2 linked regions of the Homo sapiens genome follow. The protein of the gene in region 2 interacts with the protein of the main gene of each other region in a pairwise test. Each region holds a gene or a part of one and is shown on either strand. Other genes may lie near its edges.

Region 1 (6,239 bases), on a different chromosome or scaffold from region 2:
TTGCCCAGGCTAGTCTCAAACTCCTGACCTCAGGTGATTCACCCGCCTCAGCCTCCCAGAGTGCTGGGATTACAGGTGTAAGCCACATTTAACATTTTCTAGAGAAAGGGTTCTACTATGTTGCCTAGGCTCATCTCAAACTCCTGGTCTCAAGCAATCCTCCCACCTTGGCCTCCCAAAGCATCGGTATTACAGGCCAATGAGGTCGAACTCCTGACCTCAAGCAATCCACCCACCTCGACATCCCAAAGTGCTGGGATTCCAGGCATGAGCCACCACGCCCGGCCCCGTGGCACATTTTCCTTCCGTGGCTTTTCTTCTTGAGGTCACGTGCTCCCAGGAGCACAGAGAGCTCTGGGGTCTTCCTGGACACTACCTCTGCTGTGATGAAGAAGGAGGGCCTTGGCAGGCCACCTGAGCTGCGTTTCCTGACCCTGTCCCCAGTGACAGCTGCGGCCACGATCCAAAAGAGAACATGAAACAGTGACCGTAAAAGTAAAGGCAACACTCTTTTTTTTTTTTTTCTTTTTTTACTTATTTAAAAAGGCCTTGGTGGCAGGAATATAGTGTAAAAATCATTGGAAAAACTAAAAGGCATCGATACATATCCGAATATACATTTTGTACATAAATTACATTTCCTTTAGTCTTTCTGAGTGAGGTCCTGATTCAGTACTGAGGTCTAGTAATTAAGAGGTCCCGGGAGCTGCACGTTCAGGCCGGCATAGTCCACCATGTACATTGGCCATTGCTAGAGAGAGGGACAAAGGGACTGGATTAGGACTCCAGGTGATGCGGAACAAACCCAAAATGCTTAGTTCTGCTTTTGGAAGAGCTTTCTCAGAGGCTATTTATTTATATTTTTTATTTTTTTGAGATGGAGTTTCACTCTTCTGCCCAGGCTGGAGTGCAGTGATGCAATCTCGGCTCACTGCAACCTTGGCCCCGCGGGTTCAAGCGAGTCTCCTGCCTCAGCCTCCCGAGTAGCTGGGATTATAGGCGCCCGCCACCATGCCCGGCTAATTTTTCTATTTTTAGTAGAGACGGGGTTTTGCCATGTTGGCCAGGCTGGTCTTGAACTCCTGAGCCTCAAGTGATCCGCCTGCCTCGGCCTCCCAAAGTGCTAGGATTACAGGCGTGAGCCACCACACCCAGCCTATTTATTTATTTTTGAGATGGAGTCTCGTTCTCTTGCCCAGGCTGGAGTGCAATGGGACGATCTTGGCTCACTGCAGCCTCAATCCCCTTGGGCTCAAATGATCCTCCTGCCCCAGCCTCCCAAGTAGCTGCGACCACAGGCACGTGCCACCATGCCTGGCTAATTTTTTTTTCTGAGACAGTGTTTCACTCTTGTTGCCCAGGCTGCAGTGCAATGGCGCGACCTCGGCTCATTGCAACCTCTGCCTCCCAGGTTCAAGCGATTCTCCTATCTCAGCCTTCCAAGTAGCTGGGATTACAGGCATGAGCCACTATGCCCCACTTTGCCCGGCTAATTTTGTATTTTTAGTAGAGATGGGGTTTCCCCGTGTTGGTCAGCCTGGTCTCAAACTCCTGACCTCAGGTGATCCACCCGACTTGACCTGCCAAAGTGCTGGGATTACAGGCGTGAGCCACTGCACCCGCCAGCCATGTCTTTTCATGTCTCCAGCTCTGGTGCGGCTGAAGGGTGTGGGCAGGTGGACCTCAGCCGGCCCATCTGCCCAGCGAGGATGTGAATTCCTGCCTGAGTGCCTGTGAGTACCCCACGAGAAGGATGGGCTACCTCTTGGGTGAGACAGGTGGATGCATCTATAACCCCCGAGGCCGGAAGGTCCCCACTCAAAGCCCAGTGCCTCCCCGTCCCCTGGGCCCACATCCCAGAGTAGACGGCCCTGCCAGACAGAGGGGTGAGGGCCACAGAGATGAGTGCCGGAGTCCAAATCGGTGCAACTTTACCACGAGTGAGATCTGGTTGGCCGATGCCACTGAATCCGGGTTAGAGGACGAGGAAGAGGAAGACGAGGAGGAAGAGGAGACGGAATTTCCTTCCGAGACCCGCTTTCTCTTGCGCTTGGGAATGCTGCTGTCTTTGGCTGGAAGGAGGGGAAAAGGCTGTTGACACTGGAAGCTGAGGCTTTTCTGTCTCAGCCTCCTGAGCTCCCTGGAAAAGTGCTCTGTCTTAAGGTTTCGAGTCCCCCTTTCAGGATTTCAGGCTCCTGATCCCCTGGGGGTCAGGGCCCACCTGTCCAGAGCCCACATGTCCAGCCTCCTTCCCAAAGCAAGCCCGAGGGCCCACTCTCCCCGGCCTCCTGCTCTTGCTGGCCTGCCTGCCTTTGCTAACACCGTATCCTCATCCCCATGTGTCCCTCCTCCTCCCCAGCAAGCTCACCCCTTAGGCCCTAGGTCCTCTCTCTTTCTGGTTTTTTGAGATGGAGTCTCGCTCTGTCACCCAGCCTGGAGTCCAGTGGCGCGATCTTGGCTCACTGCAACCTTTGCCTTCTGGGTTCAAGCGATTCTAGTGCCTGAGCCTCCCAAGTAGCTGGGGTTATAGGTGTCTGCCACCACGTCCAGCTAATTTTTTTGTATTTTGAGTAGAGATGGGGTTTCACCGTGTTGGGCAGGCAGCTCTTGAACTCCTGACCTCAAGTGATCCATCCACCTCGGCCTCCCAAAGTGCTGGGATTATAGGCATGAGCCATCGAACCTGGCCTATATTGTTTTTTAGGGTCTCACTCTGTTGCCCAGGCTGGAGTGCCATGGTGCAATCGTAGCTCACTGCAGCTTCCAAGTCCTGGGCTCAAGCAATCCTCCCACCTCAGGTTCCCGAGTAGCTGGGACTATACGTGCGCGCCACCATGCCTGGCTAACTTTTTGTATTTCTGCATCATTATGTTGCCCAGGCTGGTCTCCAATTCCCAACCTCAAGCAATCCTCCTGCCTCAGCTTCCCTAAATGCTGAGATTACAGGCATGAGCCACCGTGCCTGGCTCATGGCAACAATATTAATCGCATTCTCAGTTTCTGAGTATTTTCTGGGTGCTGGGCACTGTGCTAAATGCTTTGCACATTGTCTGCTGGGATCCTCCCAGCAACCCTCCAAGATCCTATTCACATTTCACTCACGAGCACCCGAAGGGGCAGGGCTGTTAAAGGACTTTCTCCAAGGCCAAGTCTGCGTGGCTCCGGAGGCCACATTCTTTCCTGGGCTCTTTAAGGCTGTGAGGGGATGTGGGACCCCAGGAGAGGCTCTGGGAGTTCTGGGGAGGCTGGAACTGCAGGCTAGGTTGTCCAGGGAGGGTATAAAGAGGACCTGGGGCCAGGCGCAGTGGCTCACACTGGTAATCCCAGCACTTTGGGAGACCAAGGTGGGTGGATTGACTGAGGTCAGGAGTTCGAGACCAGCCTGGGCAACATGGTGAAGGTTGAAACCCTGTCTCTACCAAAATACAAAAAAATTGTATTGCTATGGTTATCACTAATGTATGGTGGTCCTGAGTGGAGAGTTCACAGGTCCAAGTAGACAGGCAGTGCCCCAGTGAAAGAAACTCTGGTTTAGAATCAGAAGTCCTAAGTTCAAATTTCACTGTGGCCACTTACTATTATCACTGTGTGAATCTGGGAAAACTGATGAACCTCTCTGAGTCAAATGGGGAAACCAGTGTGATGTGAGACTCAAAAAACACCGCATGCATAAAAGAACCCAGCACCTAGTTCAGCACGGAGGAGGGGTCAGCAGGTGTTCTGTGGTTGCTGGATTAACTTGAGGTGAAGATGTAAGACTTTGAGCAGCACGTCCTGATTGGATGGATTACTGCATGGAAACCTCGCCCAGCCCAATAAAGAAGGGCTTTTATTGTCTTTTTGAGACAAGGTCTCACTCTGTCACCCATGCTGGAGTGCAGTGGTGTGGTCTTGGCTCACTGCAACCTCCACCTCCCAAGCTCAAGTGATCCTCCTGCCTCAGCCTCCCTACAGGTGCACACCACCCTGCCTGGCTAATTTTTTGTAGAGACGGGGTCTCTGTATGTTGCCCAGTCTGGTCTTGAACTCTTGGGCTCAAAGAATTCTCCTGCTTCAGCCTCCCAAAGTGCTGGGATTACAGGCGTGAGCCACTGCACTCAGCCCACCGGAAGGGTCTTAATGACACAGAGTAAGGGCAGGCTGGGTCCATGGGGCAAATGTCTCTTCAACTGGTGGAGAAGTCAGAAACTGGGGGTCTGTGGTGAGGCATAGAGACCCTGCGAAAGAGAAGACCCTGGAGGCAGGAGGAGCCCAGGCTATGAGTCAGAGGGATTTTTGTGGGAGATTCCACATGAAAAAGAAGTCAGAGGCTGCCCCACCCTCTGTCTCAGACTGGTCCATGGGCTGTGGCCATCCTTGAATCACCATGAGAGATGGCCACATTGGAGGGAGTGGTGGATGTGGGTGACAGTATCCACCCTCTGGGCATCTGTCCCAAATCCTCCTGAGGCTTTCATGTGGCCTTCTGTGTCTCTGCCATGTTTTGTTTTGTTTTTTTTTGAGACAGAGCCTGGCTGTGTTCCCCAGGCTGAAGTACAGTAGTGTGATCTCAGCTCACTGCAACCGCCGCTTCCTGGGTTCAAGCAATTCTCCTGCCTCAGCCTCCTGAGCGGCTGGGATTACAGGCGCCCACCACCACCCCCGGCTAATTTTTTTTTTTTTGGATTTTAGTAGAGACAAGGTTTCACCATGTTGGCCAGGCTGGTCTTGAACTCCTGACCTCAGGTGATCCACCTGCCTCCCTGCCTCAGCCTCCCAAAGTGTTGGGATTACAGGCGTGAGCCACCGCGACTGGCCTCCTCTCTGCCTTTGACCTGAGAGTAAACCAAATCGCCTCCAGATCCGTGTGTTCAGTGCCAGACCTGACCCTTTTAACTGGCTCTTTTTTTTTTGGAAACAGGGTCTCACTCTGTCGCCCAGGCTGGAGCGCAGTGGCACAATCATAGCTCACTGCAGCCTCCACCTTCCGGCCTCAAGCACTCCTCCTGCCTCATCCTCTTGACTATCTGGGACAACAGGTACGCGCCACCACGCCTGGCTAATTTTTAATTTTTTTGCAGAGACGGAGGGAGGGTCTCACTTTATGGCCCAGGCTTGTGACTAGCTCTTGATGGAAGGAGGTGGCTTCTAGCTGGGCTGTGCCACCCCAGGCTGTGGAGTTCCAGGTGAACCTGGTCCTGACAGGAGTCAGGGCCTTGGGTCTCAGGTAAGGTTGTGGCGTGGACTTGCTGAATCCTATCACTGTCCCTGTTGAGCAGCCATACTGGGCCGTGTGGCCCACGGTGGTCTATGGTTCAGATGGGTGGTCCTGAGAGCAGGGTCTACACAGCATCTGACTCACTATGTGGCCTGGGCAAGTCCCTGGGCATCTCTGTGCCTCAGCTTCCCAGCTGTACAATGAGGTGGGGTAAGATTAGATCAGTATTTTTTCTTTCTTCTTCTTTTTTATTTCTTAGGAGACGGGGTCTCGGCCAGGCACAGTAGCTCACGCCTGTAATCCCAGCACTTTGGGATGCTGGGGTGGGAAGATCACTTGAGGTCAGGTGTTTGAGACCAGCCCGGCCAACATGGTGAAACCTCACTTCTACTAAAAATACAAAAAATTAGCTGGGTGTGGTGGTGCATGCCTGAAGTCCCAGCTACTCGGGAGGCTAAGGCATGAGAATTGCTTGAACTCAGGAGGCGGAGGTTGCAGTGAGCCAAGATCGCAAGATTGACTCCAGCCTGAGTGACAGAGTGAGACTCTGTCTTGAAAGAAAAAAAAAAAAAAAAAAGGCCGGTAGCAGTGGCTTACGCCTGTAATCCCAGCACTTTGGGGGGCCGAGGCAGGTAGATCATGAGGTCAGGAGTTCGAGACCAGCCTGGCCAATATGGAGAAACCCCGTCTCTACTAAAAATACAAAAAAATAGCTGGGCGTGGTGGCAGGCGCCTGTAATCCCAGCTACTTGGGAAACTGAGGCAGGAGAATCACTTGAACCCGGGAGTCGGAGGTTGCAGTGAGCCGAGATCACACCACTGCACTCCAGCCTGGGCGACAGAGTGAGACGCTGTCTCGGAAAAAAAAAAAAGAGATGGGGTCTCATTCTGTCATCCAGGCAGGATGGCATAATCATAGCTCACTGCAGCCTTAAACTCTTGGGCTCAAGTGATCCTCCAGCCTCAGCCTCCTGGGACTACAAGTGCCTACTACCATGCCTGGCTAATTTTTAGAAAAACCTTTTTGGTCCACAGCCATACC
Region 2 (3,693 bases):
CTCTAGCTAACAATGAATTTGTATTATTTCTTTTAAAGAAAGTAAATAAATTCTTTGTAAAGGGTAGCCTGGAAAATAAAACAACAGTGTTTTTTGTGAAACACAGGCTTCCATTGGGAAATTTTTTTCTTATCTACCTTCCCTCCCTCTGCAGCAAACTCAGTGTCTCTTCATATCATTATCTTCCCCAGTTTCCTGAAGAAATATTCTAACAGAATAAAAGGAACCTTTCTACAAATGTAAACCTTATTTACAAAAGCAATTTGACATTGCTACTTCTGAAAAACAGTATACATAGACATCCTGGCTAACATGGTGAAACCCCATCTCTACTAAAAACAAAAAAATCAGCCGGGTGTGGTGGCACGCTCCTGTAGTCCCAGCTACTCGGGAGGGCGAGACAGGAGAATCGCTTGAACCCGGGAGGCGGAGGTTGCAGTGAGCCAAGATCGCGCCACTGCACTCCAGCCTGGGCGATAGAGCGAGACTCGGTCTCAAAAAAAAAAGAAGAAAAAGAAAAACAGTATACATAGAAGTGATTCTTATTTCCAGTTTTTATTTAAGAGAACACACTGTTCTTCAGACCTCCTTGTCTATAATTGCCAACCAGAGATTTGTATAAGTGTTAACTGCTTTGCAGCCTTACTACTTCAGTAGCATTTCATGAACAGAAGATTTAATTAATTCTGAGAAGTTGGGCTTACATTCTGGAAGAGGTGACTATGCATCAGTTAAATGAATTGAATTTGAGGAGAGAACAACTATTCTGCTTTCCTCATTTCAGAAGCCACTGTCACTTATTCTGTGACCTATCGTAAGACTCTTGGCCCTCATTTGTCTCTTTATTGTGTGCCTCTGAGTGTAAAAGTCTAACCTCTACTGCAAACTCCCTGATTTAAAGGCTGTGACATTTTTTTCTTAACTCTCTATTATCCCATCTTCTTTATAATGTGACAACCAAAAGAAATTTGAGTAAGAAGCCTGCCAACTTTGAGATAGGCCGTTACTGCTTCATCATGCTCTAACATGACAGGATAGGTTTCTTGAATATATTCAGTCATACTCAGGATTCCCATTCCTGAGCCCTACTTAAGTAGAATAGCAACTTCATGTTTTGTTCTCTCTTGAAAGTATCACACAATAAAAACAATGTAATTTTTTTTATACTAATATCCCTTAGGTAGCCTTTTATTGGTCAGAAATTCTTCTACTGTGTTTAAATTCCTTACTGATCTATAAAGGTCTATTCAAATCTTATTTTGTTCATTTATTTTATAAATATGTATTGAATACATATTTATAAAATAAATGAACAAAATAAGATTTGAATAGACCTTTATAGATCAGTAAGGAATTGAATACTTATTTGTATTCAATACCTATTTGTATAATTAAGGTTATAAAGGTTACACATACATTATGTCATTGGTTTGACATTGGATTAGAGTTGGCATAGAGGAGATTTAATCTAATTCACTTGGACAATTAAACAATTAAAAGGGACATATAGTCCCTTCAGTGTACTGTTCTTGGTGCTGTTGACCTAGGATCCAGTGGGAGCATTTAATCCTGTGTAGATAATAAATAAAATCTCAGGATTCAGTCTTCTCTTGCTGTTGACAGTGGGACTGAACTGTTTTCCTTATGCTTAACCTTAATATTTTCCATGTTACTATGTGGAAATGTTTCTGGGGCAGAAACATCCTAGTTCCATCTCAGTGATGGTAGTGATTTTATGCTGTTGCCTTCTTCACAATACCCTTATGTAATGTATCTTACCTTCATAAAACTTATATTCATTTATTCAGTAAACCTTCATTGAACATCCTATACTAGGCTCTGAGGATATAAAGATAAAAAGAAGTAACTCCTGCCCTCCAGGAACTCTCAATCTGGTCTGCAGGAAGACATGCAAACGACTATTACTGTAATTAGGATCATCATTATGAAGTTCATATAAGATATTCTAGAATGTGGAGGAGGGAGTTCATAATTCTGCAGATAGCCTGTTTGGAAATGTCCAGGAAAAGTTTCACCAAGGGTATAATAGTTGTATTGAGATGAGTAAACCTTTATAGCTAAAGAATTGGGCAAAAGTATCCCAAGCAGAGGAATAGCAAGTGTAATTCCTGAAAACTTGAACGAGCATACTGTACTCACCAGTTTGTAAGTTTATATTCACTTGAGTATTTAACCTAAATAAGCTCCTTGAGACCAGAAATTTACATCTGTTTTGGTCACCATTGTATTCTCAGGTTTTATCACAATGCCTGGAACATAGTATTTAATTTAAAAAAATCTTTTTACAAACAGAATTACACAAATCCTCAACAATCGTCCACATATTTTCTCTCACACAGCTGCCTCCTCACTCCCCTTTGCAGCACCTGATGTACCTCCTTAGAAACCTAGACTCCAAAGAACACTGTTTGACAACCACTGCAGTAGAACATAATATATCAAGATTTTAGGAGTGGGTTTCTTTTTTCATTTTTACATGTTTTAGAATAACATGCATAATCAAAGCTAATAATACTGTGTTTTCTTTACTCTTTTATTTGCCTCTAAAGACATCCACACATAGTGGTGAACTGATTTTTAATGCGTTTTAAATAAAAGGCATTGAAAAATATTAATAATTGTAATTACTAAAAGTATTTCTCTTTGCGATTCTCTTATCTGTGTTTCCAGACCGGTTGGAGGGTGACAGATCAGAAGGCTCTGGTCAAGAGAATGAAAATGAGGATGAGGAATAATAAACTCTTTTTGGCAAGCACTTAAATGTTCTGAAATTTGTATAAGACATTTATTATATTTTTTTCTTTACAGAGCTTTAGTGCAATTTTAAGGTTATGGTTTTTGGAGTTTTTCCCTTTTTTTGGGATAACCTAACATTGGTTTGGAATGATTGTGTGCATGAATTTGGGAGATTGTATAAAACAAAACTAGCAGAATGTTTTTAAAACTTTTTGCCGTGTATGAGGAGTGCTAGAAAATGCAAAGTGCAATATTTTCCCTAACCTTCAAATGTGGGAGCTTGGATCAATGTTGAAGAATAATTTTCATCATAGTGAAAATGTTGGTTCAAATAAATTTCTACACTTGCCATTTGCATGTTTGTTGCTTTCTAATTAAAGAAACTGGTTGTTTTAAGATACCCTGAATTTGACTTTTTATTTAATGCCTTGCTACTTTGACCCACAGTTTTCCAATCTCTCCTGTAGCATACGATGACTATTTTTCTATATTTTCTAGATTTAACAACCTTTTCCTTTTTTGCTTGTGTGGGATAGAATCACATAGAAGGACTTCCTTCATTTCTCCTTCCACGGTACAGCTGACCCTTGAGCAACCCAGGGGTTAGTGGCACCAGCCCCCCTCACAGTTGAAGATTCATGTGTAACTGTTGACTTCCCAAAAATTTGACCATTAACAGCCTGTTGATCGCAAGCCTTACTGATAGCATGGTCAATTAACACATATTTTGTATATTTTATGTGTTATATTCTATACTCTTACAATAAAGTAAGCTACAGAAAAAGTGTTATTAAGAAAATCATAAGGAAGAGAAAATATATTTACTGTTCACTAGGTGGAAATGGATCATCATAAAGGTCTTCACTGTTGAGAAGGCCGAGGAAGAAGGAGGCGTTGGTCTTGCTGTCTGAGGGATGGCAGAGGAAATCCACATAT

Evidence for each region.
Region 1: the proteins of DCAF6 (region 2) and GTF2IRD1 interact in a two-hybrid assay, tested with the Homo sapiens proteins (one study listed by BioGRID and IntAct).

The regions. Positions count from the first base shown.
Region 1 is NC_000007.14:74,596,877-74,603,115, reverse strand, and holds the end of GTF2IRD1 (general transcription factor II-I repeat domain-containing protein 1), read right to left. Parts: intron 2,073-6,239; coding exon 1,936-2,072; coding exon of another isoform or gene 1,819-1,935; exon of another isoform or gene 822-1,818; intron 752-821; coding exon 683-751; 3' UTR 511-682; downstream 1-510. UniProt on the Homo sapiens protein: May be a transcription regulator involved in cell-cycle progression and skeletal muscle differentiation. May repress GTF2I transcriptional functions, by preventing its nuclear residency, or by inhibiting its transcriptional activation.
Region 2 is NC_000001.11:168,072,680-168,076,372, forward strand, and holds the end of DCAF6 (DDB1- and CUL4-associated factor 6), read left to right. Parts: intron 1-2,691; coding exon 2,692-2,756; 3' UTR 2,757-3,157; downstream 3,158-3,693. UniProt on the Homo sapiens protein: Ligand-dependent coactivator of nuclear receptors. Enhance transcriptional activity of the nuclear receptors NR3C1 and AR. May function as a substrate receptor for CUL4-DDB1 E3 ubiquitin-protein ligase complex.